Homo sapiens: one gene and its partners. The protein of the gene in region 2 purifies or fractionates together with the protein of the main gene of each other region. This does not show direct contact. Each region holds a gene or a part of one and is shown on either strand. Other genes may lie near its edges.

Evidence for each region.
Region 1: the proteins of LYRM1 (region 2) and TNFAIP2 fractionate together in Homo sapiens (co-fractionation; one large-scale study listed by BioGRID). This does not show direct contact.
Region 3: the proteins of LYRM1 (region 2) and DENND6A fractionate together in Homo sapiens (co-fractionation; one large-scale study listed by BioGRID). This does not show direct contact.

Annotation. Positions count from the first base shown.
Region 1 is NC_000014.9:103,121,946-103,126,309, reverse strand, and holds the start of TNFAIP2 (tumor necrosis factor alpha-induced protein 2), read right to left. Parts: upstream 2,850-4,364; 5' UTR 2,359-2,849; intron 1,936-2,358; exon of another isoform or gene 1,804-1,935; intron 1-1,803. UniProt on the Homo sapiens protein: May play a role as a mediator of inflammation and angiogenesis.
Region 2 is NC_000016.10:20,910,684-20,914,294, forward strand, and holds part of LYRM1 (LYR motif-containing protein 1), read left to right. Parts: intron 1-499; exon of another isoform or gene 500-581; intron 582-3,611. UniProt on the Homo sapiens protein: May promote cell proliferation and inhibition of apoptosis of preadipocytes.
Region 3 is NC_000003.12:57,690,230-57,694,605, forward strand, and holds the start of DENND6A (protein DENND6A), read right to left. Parts: upstream 2,849-4,376; 5' UTR 2,790-2,848; coding exon 2,553-2,789; intron 1-2,552.

The DNA of each region.
Region 1 (4,364 bases), on a different chromosome or scaffold from region 2:
CTGCGGGGTGGGGGTGAAGGCATCAGTGGTCACCATGGACCGGCCCTGGCTCCCAGGCTGGACACACAGCTATGCTGGCTGCATTGAGTACACTCAGTCTGTTTCACCCATTCAGCCACCGGGGCTCTGCTCATCTCCTGGCCCAGATGAGCACCAACAACTGTGCTTCCTCCCTGGCCACGAGCATCTCACCATCTACAGCTCCCCTTCCAATACTTCACAGCCCCAGAAGCAAGGAAGAGGCTGGGGACGCCAAGCCCGCCACACAGAGGGGGACTTTCACTTTACTTGGGCAAATCCTTCCCTGCCAGCCCACCCTCTGGGCAGGAAGCAGGCAATGGACACCTCCCTGGATCCCACGGGACCCTAGGGAAGAGGCGGGGCATGGGCTCTGTCCCTTTGGACAGAGCAGGAACAGAGGTCCAGAAAGGTCTGGGACATGCCGGGGTCTAGAACACCAGAACCGGCCTGAGACTGGAACCCAGCCTCCTCCTGCCCAGACCCAGCCCCTCTGCCATCTTGTCCAGTTCTGATCCAGCGGTGGGGTCACAGAAACACAGCTGCTCCAGCTGGGCCATGAAAGGGGCAGAGCCTGACCAGGATCTACAGAAGCCACAGTGGGTGGGACCTCAGACAGCCTTTCACACATCACTGGGGCAAGGGGCTCAGCAAGTCACAGGGCGGCCTGAAGTCACACAGCAACTCGGGTCCAGAACCCAGGCTTCCTGGCTCCCACCCCCTCCCAAATGGGATCGTAGCATCATCACAAAGGCTTCCAGTTTCTGCAGCCTTCCTGGGTGCCCATCCCATCTCTTCCTTTCTCTCATCTGGAAGGGTGTTATTTCGGCTTAAACTGTCCCTATAGTCAATAGCTTGGGCTTGGAACTCAGGCCACCCGGTCCCAGAGCCCAGCTTTCCCCTGCCTCCACATCCCCAGCTATCCTGCAAGCTACATCCAGAGAGGCAAGACCCGAGCTTCCCCAGAGTCCCTGCCCAGCACCTGACCATTGTCAGAGCAAGGCCAGGTCCACTGGAGAAGAGCATGGCTGATCTGAAAGGGGGAAGCAGGCAGGGGCTGGGCCTCCCCAAGAACTGGGGTGACCTGTAACCTTGATGCCACCTGTCTGCCCCACCCCAAGACTAAATGCATGCAGCCTTGTCTCATGTATCATGGTAACTTCAAGTGACCCCTGAAACAGCCCTGCAAGGCAGGCAGGATGATCCACCATCCAGAAGGAGAAACTGAGGCTGAGTAGGAGGTGTTTGCCCCAAGCACAGCAGCCATGGAGGCTCAGACTGGGCCCATCCGACTCTTCCCATGGCCCCGCTGCCTCCACCAGCCCCACTACCCTGTCCCCATCCTGGAGGGGCTTGGCCAGAGCCACCTGAGGGACAGGAAGCCTGGGCTCCTCCCACCCCCAGCCCCTGCCATGCTCACCCAGTGCCCTGGGCAGAGTCCCACACTCCTGGATGGCACTGGCCTCCCTAGTGCCATTTGGGTTGAGCATTCCACTCCAGGACCAAGAGGGGCATGCTCCAGGGAGCCCCAGGGGCAAGGCCATGGGGCACCTCTGCTCCCCACCCGGTGCCCCAACTTCGCTTCCCAGCCCCTCTCAGGTGCATGCCTAGCACCCGCGGGAGCTGGTCTGTCTGGCAGGGCCACTCAGCCCCACCCTGGGTGCCCAGGCCCCACCTCTGCCATTCTCCTGGGGTGGGGGAGGGTGGCCCTTACCAGCAATGCTCCCTGCCAGCCTCACCTCAGCCTTCCCTGTCCCACCCCACATGTACTAGGCTCTGTCCCACCTCCAGGCACAGCTCCCGCAGGACCCCCACAGCATCACCGCCTTCTCCCCTCTGTGACACGAAACCCAGAGCGCCTGAAGGTCCTGCTGCAGCCCCCTGGGCCTCGCCCCAGGTCTCCGCTCTCCGAGGCAGCTGGTGCCATGGAAAGAGAAACGCTTTCGGTGTGGGCTCAGCACACTTCTCACTAGTGTGTGGACTGCACACCTCCTTCCTTCACAAGCCGCCGTTTCCCCGTCTTTGAAAAGGGGATGAGGACCCCCACCCCACAGTGCTGCTGAGGGGATGTGGCCAAACCGCACAGCCAAGTGCTGGGCGCCTAGCTGGGCCTCAGTGGGGGTGAGTCTCCTGTGTCCTGAGTCTGTCCTGCAGGCAGCAGCGAGCCGGTGCAGCCAGAAAGGAAGAAGGGGAGGAGGGGCGTTCCTTTGAGCCTTGCCGCTGGTTGGGCCCACTGAGGCAGGAAGGGGCCTGCTGGGAGGCTCGTAGAGGGGTCACAGCCAGTGGCTCAACAGCGCCCCCCAGCCTCCTGCTGCCCGGCCTCTCCTCAGGTCCACTGACCTGGCTCGCCTTCCCCGTCAGGGCTGATGTCCACACACCTCCCGGGAGCTCGCTGGGCCCGGCTCCTTCAGTCCTGGGCAGGATGTGGAAGGCGCACCCATCCCCCGATGAGGACACCCGGGCACGGGCGAGGAAGTGACTCGGCCTGTGTCGCCCGGCCGGGGAGTCACGCCGGACCTGGGGCCTTTCTGCTGTAATGGAGGGGAGACCCCTGCGCCTGCCCCAGCCCCGCCCTCCCTGCCTCTGGCAGGCCCGGGCCCTCAGCCAGCCTTGGCCCCTCTGCGCCCGGACGCGCGGACGCTGGGCGCGCCAGGGCCTCAGTTTCCCTGGAAGCGTCCAGCCCCCTCCTGTCCCCGCCGCGGCGACAGGCTCTTTCCTCGGGGAATCCGGCCTGGCCTCGGGGTAGGGGCGGGCGAGAAGCCGCGCGGAGCGGCGGGGAATGGACGTGTGGAAGCGGAGGTCACTTACCGTGTCCCGGCCTGGCCGCCACTGTCCTGGCCCGGGTTCCGCAAGGCCTGAAATAGTCGCAGAGTCAGCCCCGCCCCGCCCGCCCCTCCTTCCCCGCCCCGCCGCAACCGCGGAAAACCCGCGGGCGGAGGCCAAGGCCCAGCGCGGCCCGGCTGTGTCCCTGCGTCCCAGGGGCTGGGCGCGCCCGGCCTGCCCAGCGGGGGATGCGGGGCGCTGTCACTTCCTCCCAGCAGCCGGGCAGGGGCGGGGGGCTGGCCGCGCGTCGCATGGTATGTGGAGTTCGGGGGACGGCACGGGGACGACGGGGTTGTCAGGCGCGGAGCCATTGTCCGACGACGGCTCCTGATAGGCCGCCTGGATGGGGCGCGCTTGGCCGCGTTCCCGCGTCACACACCGGCTCCAGCTGCGGGAGAGCCCGTCCCACCCCAACTCCCCAGCCGCCCCTCTGAAGTGTTCCGGTGTCACCGTGGCCACAAGGAGGCAGGGGACGGGGGCTTCCTGAAGGAGGCCCCCTAAGGGGAAGGGGGCTACAAGGCTGGCCAGAGTGCTGGCCGCGCGGCTGTGCACAGGGCCTTGAGCCCCTCCGGTCGTCAAGCCTTGCTTGAAATGCGTAAATGCGGAAAGGTGAAGTGGCTGACCCGGCTCACACCACTTTAAGTAGCGGAGTGGGGTTCCTAGCCAGGCCTATGGGACTCCCACTGGAGCCTTTCCCCCTCTGGGGCTGGGGCTGGACCCACAGGCTGCCGGAGCAGGCAGAAGGGGAGGGGCCCAAGGCCCAGACTCCAGGGCCTCGTCTGGATCATCAACCCGGCTTTGCCCATTCAGCGCAGGCCTCCGTTTCCAGGCCTGTCTCCCCATCCACACCGTCTCTCAGGGTTTGTTTTGGGAGATGTGGGGGTGGGGCATGTGGGGAGGATGGAAAGGGGCTGTGAAGGGAACCCACTGGAGATTCACTTCCTTCCTTATTTCACACTCTAGGCTAGGAATTCCTGCCCTCTGGAAAGGACCCAGACATTTAGGAATTTCCCGCTGGGCAGGGGCTTCCCTCCTGCCTCACTGGGGCCTCTGCTCCTCCCCTCTTTTGTTTGGCCTCTTTCCCCGCCCCCTGATCACTCCGCCACCCCTTCTGCAGCCTAGTAACAGGTCTTCCAGGACCAGGGGGGCCAGCGGAGTGGGGGCGGCTGTGGGTTCAGGTGCCCTGGGAACTGAGAACTTCCTCTTCCAGAGTGCTGGCCAAGCGCCAGGTTTGCACTCGGATTGCCATCCATCATCCTGTCTCTGGGGAACCTGTGGGGGAGCGGATGCGGGAGGCCGCCAGGATGCAGGATGGGGCGTTAAGGCTGCCAACCCCACCCCTTCTCTCCTAGGACTCCAGGGATGACATTTTTCAGATGAGTCCACAGAGCCGCGGTGTCCCGGGGCTGGGAGGGTCCTTCCACCGGCACCGCGCAGATGGAGTTCATCCACACAGGGGCGATGAGGATACGGGCTGAGGGGCCCTGGCCGGTGGCTGCCTTCACGGCTGGCTGCTGTGGCCT
Region 2 (3,611 bases):
GGCTCACTCGAGCCTGGGAGGTCAAAGCTGCAGTGAGCCATGATCATGCCACTGTACTCCAGCCTGGGTGACAGAGCGAGACCCTGCCTCTAAAAAAAAAAACAACAACAACAAAAAACCTTGCTGCTGATTGAATATGCCTGACCTTGGTCACTTTTCTCAAGTGTCTTGCAGTCAAGGAAGTTCCGTCTGTTAATGACAGGGAAGTGAAGCAATCATTAAGAGATGTTAGTTACAGACTCCCTGTACCTCACAGGAACTGACTCATGTATTTTCATATGAAACCATGGAGTTTTAGGGAGAGCCAGAAACTCAGAAACCTGTTTCCTTACCAGGAAAAATGTCATCATCTCATCTGGGTTTTTATTACAATAAGCCACAAAGCATGATGTTCTCTCTTGGTTTTTATGAATTCCTTGTAAGCATTTTTTTCTGTGCAGCCTCATAGACTCAGAATTGGTATTGAATATAACTTTGGTCCTTTTAACCTTTGAATTAGGTGAAGTAGTATTTGAAGCTTTTCATCAGTTGGCTCATTCTTTACTCAAGAATAAACCTCAAGAAACGTCATCAGGGTCAGAGTAAGTGCTCATATTGGAAAGAGAAATTCTCTGTAAGTTGAATTCCTTGCAAGTACTTAGAATTTTGAGGTAAACGTGCCCACTTCCAGCTCCAATCTGCATTCTTTAGCTGCTCAAATTCTCATAATTTCAGGACTACCCTAAAGCATATTATCTCCACCTCTTATGCCTTTCCCTCCATAAGTTGAAAATGGATCATGTTCCCAAAAGCAAGCAGTGAGCAGCTTACTTCCCGATCCTGATGAGCCTGTTAGAGGAAAACCCAGAACTCAGAATGAGGTGTCCAGCTGCCTGGCCTTGCTACTTACTCACCAAATCTGCCCTCCTTGTCTTCCCACCCTGTCTTCTGGTTCAAGGCTGTACAATATTCATTGTTCTAATTCTGACTAATCAGAATCTTCCAGTAGTGGGACTTTTTTTTTTCTAGCTTCCCTGAATTTATTTTAGATATAGAAATGTAAATAGTTATGAAAAAAGGAGAGGGGGGGCTGAAATACTTTGTTTTTTCATTTTTATAGAGATAGGGTCTCTTTATATTGCCCAGGCTGGTCCTGAACTCCTGGCCTCAAATGATCCTTCCATCTCAGCCTCCCAAAGTACTGGGATTATAGGAATGAGCCACTGGAGCCAGCCTGAAGTTTTTAAATAAGTTGTTGGGGTTTGCTTGTTTGTTTTTGAGATGGGGTCTCACTCTGTCACCCAGGCTGGAGTGCAGGGGCTCAGTCTTGGCTTGTAGTGCAATCTCAGCTTACTTTAGCCTCCCGGGCTCATACGATCCTCCCACCTCAGCCTCCCAAGTAGCTAGGACTACAGGCACATGCCATCAGCCCTGTCCAATTTTTGTATTTTTTTACAAAATGAATGTTTTGTTAAAAACATGTTACCGAGGTGGGTCTCAAACTCCAGAGCTTAAGTGACCTGCCTGTCCCAGCCTCCCAAAGTGCTGGGATTACAGGCATGAGCCACTGCACGTGGCCTTAAATAAATTTTTGTTGGTATTTTTGGGTTTTTTTTGTTTTTTTTGAGATGGAGTCTCACTCTGTCACCCAGGCTAGAGTGCAGTGGCGCAATCTCGGCTCACTGCCAGCTCCGCCTCCCGGGTTCACGCCATTCTCCTGCCTCAGCCTCCCGATTAGCTGGGACAGGCGCCCACCACCATGCCCGGCTAATTTTTTTTTGTGTATTTTTAGTAGAGACGGGGTTTCACCTTGTTAGCCAGGATGGTCTTGATCTCCTGACTTTGTCATCTGCCTGTCTTGGCTTCCCAAAGTGCTGGGATTACAGGCATGAGCCACCGCGCCCAGCCGGCCTTAAATAATTTTTTTTAAAAAGGAAACACCTAATATCCATCAGCAAAATAGATAGTACATTGGGATATCTTCATACAGCAGGCTGAATTGCAGCACTGAGAATATATGAACCAGAGCCATGTGTAACAACATGGATGAATCTTATGAATGTTATGGGCAAATAAAGCAAATTGCAGAACTTACCTATAAACTTTTTAAACTTGCAAAGCAGGCGGGGTGCGGTGGCTCATGCCTGTAATCCCAGCACTTTGGGAGGCTGAGGCAGGTGGATCATCTGAGGTCAGGAGCTCGAGACCAGCCTGACCAACATGGTGAAACCCCATCTCTACTAAAAATACGAAATTAGCCAGGCGTGATGGTGCGCACCTGTAATCCCAGCTAATTGGGAGGCTGAGTCAGGATAATCACTTGAACCTGGGAGGCGGAGGTTGCAGTGAGCCGAGATTGCGCCATTGCACTCCAGCCTGGGCAACAAAAGCGAAACTCTGTCTCAAAAATAATAATAATAATAATAATAATAATAATTAAATAAATAAATAAAACTTGCAAAGCAATACTATAAATGTTATGTGTAAAGATATGCACAATAAACAATAAATTCAGCATAGTGATTCCTTCTAGGAGAGGAAGGGAAATGTTATTTGGAAGGGGTACAGTGGGGGTTTCTACTGGATACATAATTTATTCTTTAAGGTCTGTTGTAACTGTATGGCTATTATATTGGTCTCAGTATCTTTTCTTTGTTTTTTTTTTTTTTTTGGAGACAGAGTCACTGTTGCCCAGGCTGGAATACAGTGGCGTGATCTTGGCACACTGCAACCTTCACCTCCTGGGTTCAGGTGATTCTCGTGCCTCAGCCTCCAAATAGCTGGGATTACAGGTGGTTGCCACCACACCTGGCTAATTTTTGTATTTTTAGTAGAGACTGGGTTTCACCATGTTGCCCAGGCTGGTCTTGAACTCCTTACCTCAAGTGATCCACCTGCCTCGGCCTCCCAAACTGCTGGGATTACAGGCATGAGCCACTGTACCTGGCCTCTATATCTTTTTGTATCTGAAATATTTTGTAATAAGAATTTAAAGATACTGGGAATTATGCTTTTGAAAAATACAATTAGCTTTACAGAATATACCTACGTCCGTTCTCTCTTGGCCACATCTTCTGAAATTAAAACTGATGTTTGAGACTAAAAACCCAGAGGGGCCTTGAGATCTTCAGTCATCAGAAAGATTTTTTTTTTTTCTTTTTTTTGAGACAGAGTCTCGCTCTGTCACCCAGGCTGGAGTGCAGTGGCCGGATCTCAGCTTACTGCAAGCTCCGCCTCCCGGGTTCATACCATTCTCCTGCCTCAGCCTTCTGAGTAGCTGGGACGATAGGCACTCACCACAACGCCCAGCTAATTTTTTGTATTTTTAGTAGAGACGGGGTTTCACCGTGTTAGCCAGGATGGTCTCAATCTCCTGACCTCGTGATCCACCCACCTCAGCCTCCCAAAGTGCTGGGATAACAGGCATGAGCCACTGCACCCGGCCAGTCATCAGAAAGATTTTTAATTATACTTATTGGACAAGAAAGTAGACCAACGATTTTGAGAAATATTTCCAAAAAGGTTGTGACAGACTAAAAGAGAGGTTGCAACCTGACAACCTCTGGGTGGAACTGAGCCTACAGACTCATTTTGTTTGGCCTGTACAGTCGTCACTTTTTTTTTTTTTTTTT
Region 3 (4,376 bases), on a different chromosome or scaffold from region 2:
GCGCGGTGGCTCATGCCTGTAATCCCAGCACTTTGGGAGGCTGAGGTGGGCAGATCACACTGTCAGGAGATCGAGACCATCCTGGCTAACACGGTGAAACCCCGTCTCTATTAAAAATACAAAAAATTAGCCGGGCGTGGTGCGGGTGCCTGTAGTCCCAGCAACTTGGGAGGCTGAGGCAGGAGAATGGCGTGAACCTGGGAGGCGGAGCTTGCAGGGAGGCGGAGCTTGCAGGGAGACGAGATTGCCCCACTGCACTCCAGCCTGGGCAACAGAGCAAGACTCTCTCTCTCAAAAAACAAAAATTAGCTGGGCATGGTGACATGCACCTGTAGTCCCAGCTACTTGGCAGGCTGAGGCAGGAGAATCACTTGAACCTGGGAGGTGGAGGTTGCAGTGAGCCGAAATTACACCACTGCACTCCAGCCTGGCTGACAAAGTTAGACTCTGTCTTTAAAAAAAAAAAAAAAAATCAGAGAAGGGGAAGAAGGCAGTTTGCAGGGAACATGAAATATAAACAAGATCTGCACACAAAAAAAGAGCAAAACCAAGAGGTTTCCCTGGTTCTGAACTCTAGCCATTTTCTGAAGCCCTACTAGGTTTATGTCTTAAATAGCTGGAAACCACATATATGGAACCACATACATGATTTCATCTTACTCAGCCTTTTCCTAGTGGAAAATTCACAATGTTCATATTTTTAAAAGATCCAGGAAGCAAAAGGTTAAGAACTCCTGACCTAGAAAAAACTCTATACAGTGGCATACACTATGGAAAATGAAATTCAAAATAAGTCCTTTAATAATTCACATTTTTGCAGCATCTCAAATATATTTTCTGTTTATTTGGTCAAAAAACATATTCACGTTATAAAGAATGTCCCAAATAATGAGAATCCAAAAGAATCTCCTTTAGCTATTTAAAAACACAATCAACTACAACAACCCATTCTTATGCTTTCTGGTTAAATTGTATCTTGCTGTACATATAACTTCAGGTTAACATGGCAAGGTGAATAATAAATGGCTTATAAATCTCTTACTCAAAATCTTTGGGAACTGTTTTTCTTACTTTAATAAGATAAAGAATTGCTCACATATTCACCTATTCTATCAAAAGTATTTATAGAATGCCACTAGGTGCCAGGCACTGCATTTGGCCTTATCAGCTACTATGATTAATTCTTGGTTCTCCTCTAAATTATTGCCTCAATCTACAAATACAGATTAGAGCACATCCTATTTGTATGCTCCACAACTAACATAATGCCTGGTTCTTAGTGGAAACTTAATGTCGCTGAACTGTGTTATAATAAAACATCCAGAAGGCAGGCCGAATACGAAAGCAGTAGCTTCGCATTAAGAAAACTACCCCTAGCCAATTTTCTTAGTCAACCAGGCCACTACAGTATTAATGAAATCGAAATCTGTCACCAATACCAAAAAAAAAAAAAAAAAAAAAAAACCAAAACCAAAACGTCTAAACAAACGCCCTTCTGATAACAATTTCCTTGGACACATGAAAGCAAGCAATTCCTTATGCTAAAAAGACCTTCAACAACGTCAAGAATAGATGTTTCTAAAGCCTTTCGGTAAGGGGCCATACATAAGAATGGAAAAGTTGACTGATTGACAAGCAAATGATGTTCCCTATATTCATCTTGACAGTAGTTTCACACCAACTGTTCCAGAGGCAACATAAAAAAAAATAACAGAAATGAGGCCGGGCACGGTGGCTCACGCATGTAATCCCACCACTTTGGAAGGCCTAGGCGGGCAGACCACCTGAGTCGGGAGTTCGAGACCAGCCTTACCAAAATGGAGAAACCCCGTCTCTATTAAAAATACAAAATTAGCCGGGCATGGTCGCATGCCTGTAACCCCAGCTACTCGGGAGGCTGAGGCAGGAGAATTGCCTGAATCCGGGAGGCAGAGGTTGCGGTGAGCCAAGATCGCGCCATTGCACTCCAGCCTGAGCAACAAGAGCAAAAACTCCGTCTCAAAAAAAAAAAAAAAAAAAAACAGAAATGAGGCACAAAAGGAGGAAAGGGAGAAAATGCGTGCTGAGATAAGCATTTCGACTCAGGCTGAGGGAAACGCTCAAACAGTTACTGCAAATGACTAAAACAATCTGAGCCTTAAAACTTGGTTGTGCAAGTTCGGCTACTAGAGTTCATCATCTGTTATGGGCATTGTTCTTGAAAAAGTACCAAACAAACATCCTGCCTGCGGGCTTCTCCGGGTGGGTGCTACTAACCCTTTTAGTTAATTCTGTGACTCTGCGTTTAAAAGAAATAAAGAAAGAACAGGATGAACATCAACAAGTATTTAGGAGGGGCCTAGAGAGAACTTTTCACCCCTAGCCGCAGCCCAAGATCCTCCCACGGGAAGTGCCGTAGGACCGCAGCCCGAAAGAGCGCGGGAGGGGAGACTGGCCACGCCCGGATGCGCCGCGGACAGGGTCCTGGCCGGTCAGCCCGCGGGCCGCTGGCTTTGCTGCAGCCGCCCCGGCGCAGGGGAGGAGCGCCGAGAAAGGGCGGGGCCGGGCCTCACCTCCACGGCCTGGCCCAGCTCCAGGTCGAAGCCCACCACACACACGCAGTGCAGCCAGGCGGAGAAGCTGTCCCAGCGCAGCAGGCCCCGGCCACGGCCATCGTCCTCTTCATCGTCCTCTGGCGCGCCTCCCGCCGCCACAAGGGCCGGCGCCTCGCGGCCCTCGGCCCCTGCCACCGCTTCGTCCAACGGCCTTCGAGAGCCGGGCCCCAAGCCCGCAGGGCCCCTCAAAGCCATCGGCCGCCCCCTGACCGTTCGCGCCGCCTCCACAGCGGACCGCGCCGCAGAGCGCGCTTGCCTCCGCGCAGGCGCAGACGCTGCTGTCGCAGCCGCTGGGGACCCACTCAGTCCGGGCGGGGCTGCGGGTCACGTGACCCTGGGAGCGGACGTGGGGACGTCACGCTGCCGCTTGTCTCGGATTGTGAAGCCGGTCCTGGCTTCCTTGTCTAAAAGCTCTTTGGGACTGAAATGGCTGTTTATGAATCCTTGTCAACCTCGTTCGCAGTCAACGACCAGGGAATAAATTATTCGTGGAATGACACAGTTCATAATTATTATAAGGTATTATTAAATTATGAAAGCGTAGGCCGGGCGCGGTGGTTCACACCTGTAATCACAGCATTTTGGGAGGCCGATGCGGGCGGATCATCAGGTCAGGAGTTCGAGACCAGCCTGACCAACATGGTGAAACCCCGTCTCTACTAAAAATACGAAAAAATTAGCCAGGCGTGGTGGAGCGCGCCTGTGATCCCAGCTACTCAGGAGGCTGAGGCAGGAGAATCGCTTGAACCCAGGAGGTTACAGTTAGCTGAGATTGCGCCACTGTATTCTGTCTACCCTGGGCGACAGAGCGAGATTCCGTCTCAAAAAAATAAAAATAAAATATATGAACGCATAATGGTGACGGTGGCTAACATTGAACGCTTACTTTGTGCCAGTTGATATGCCAAGTACAAGTGCGAATACTTACAAATATTACCTTATTGAATCTTCACATAATCGCAAATAAGTAGACTATTTATTTCTTTTTACAGATAAGGAAATGGAGGTCCTGGAGGTTACATGACTAGCCCAACAAGTATGACAACTCCGATATCGGCTTGCGGTTCACTCATTCAGTTTGCTGATTCAGAGATCTGTGCATTCACTCACCTGTTCCTTCTCCAGCAAGGCCTCCCCACCCTACCACCTCCTCCTTTCTTAGTTTGGCTGTCTGTGACTCACTCAACACACATCCCCAGACCTTTCTGGAACTCCAGGTTGGGCAGATTGGCCTCCACAGCAACCTGTGGATCTCTGAACACTGGGGCAAGGGCCTGGTCTCAAGCAGCTTCGTATTCTGAGATCAGTTTTTACTGAGTATTGGACCAGCCAGGATACTAACTAGTATTTATTCAGCACCTACTATGTTGAGTATAAATAGCATAGTAAAAGTAGGAAACACACAATAATACCTCAACAGAAAAATGAGTAAACCAGCGAGGTGTCACGCCTGTAGTCCCAGGTTCTTGGGAAGCTGAGGCCGGCTAAGTTCAAGGAGGATCGCTTGAGCAGGAGTTCCAGGCTGCAGCGCGCTATGATCGCGCCTGCGAACAGCCATTGCACTCCAGCCTGGGCAACAGAGCGCGACTGTGTCTCTAAAAAACAACGCAAAACAAAAAACACGGCAGAACTTAAGCATTTTGCTGCACTGCCCAGTGAAATCCATTCCATTTGACAAATACTGCCCTCTTAACATTCTTAGAATTTTTTTTTGGAGCAAGTGTTAGCGTCCCTGTTTTCAAGGAGGTGGTCAAGTATGCACAGACATCAGTAGTGACGTTT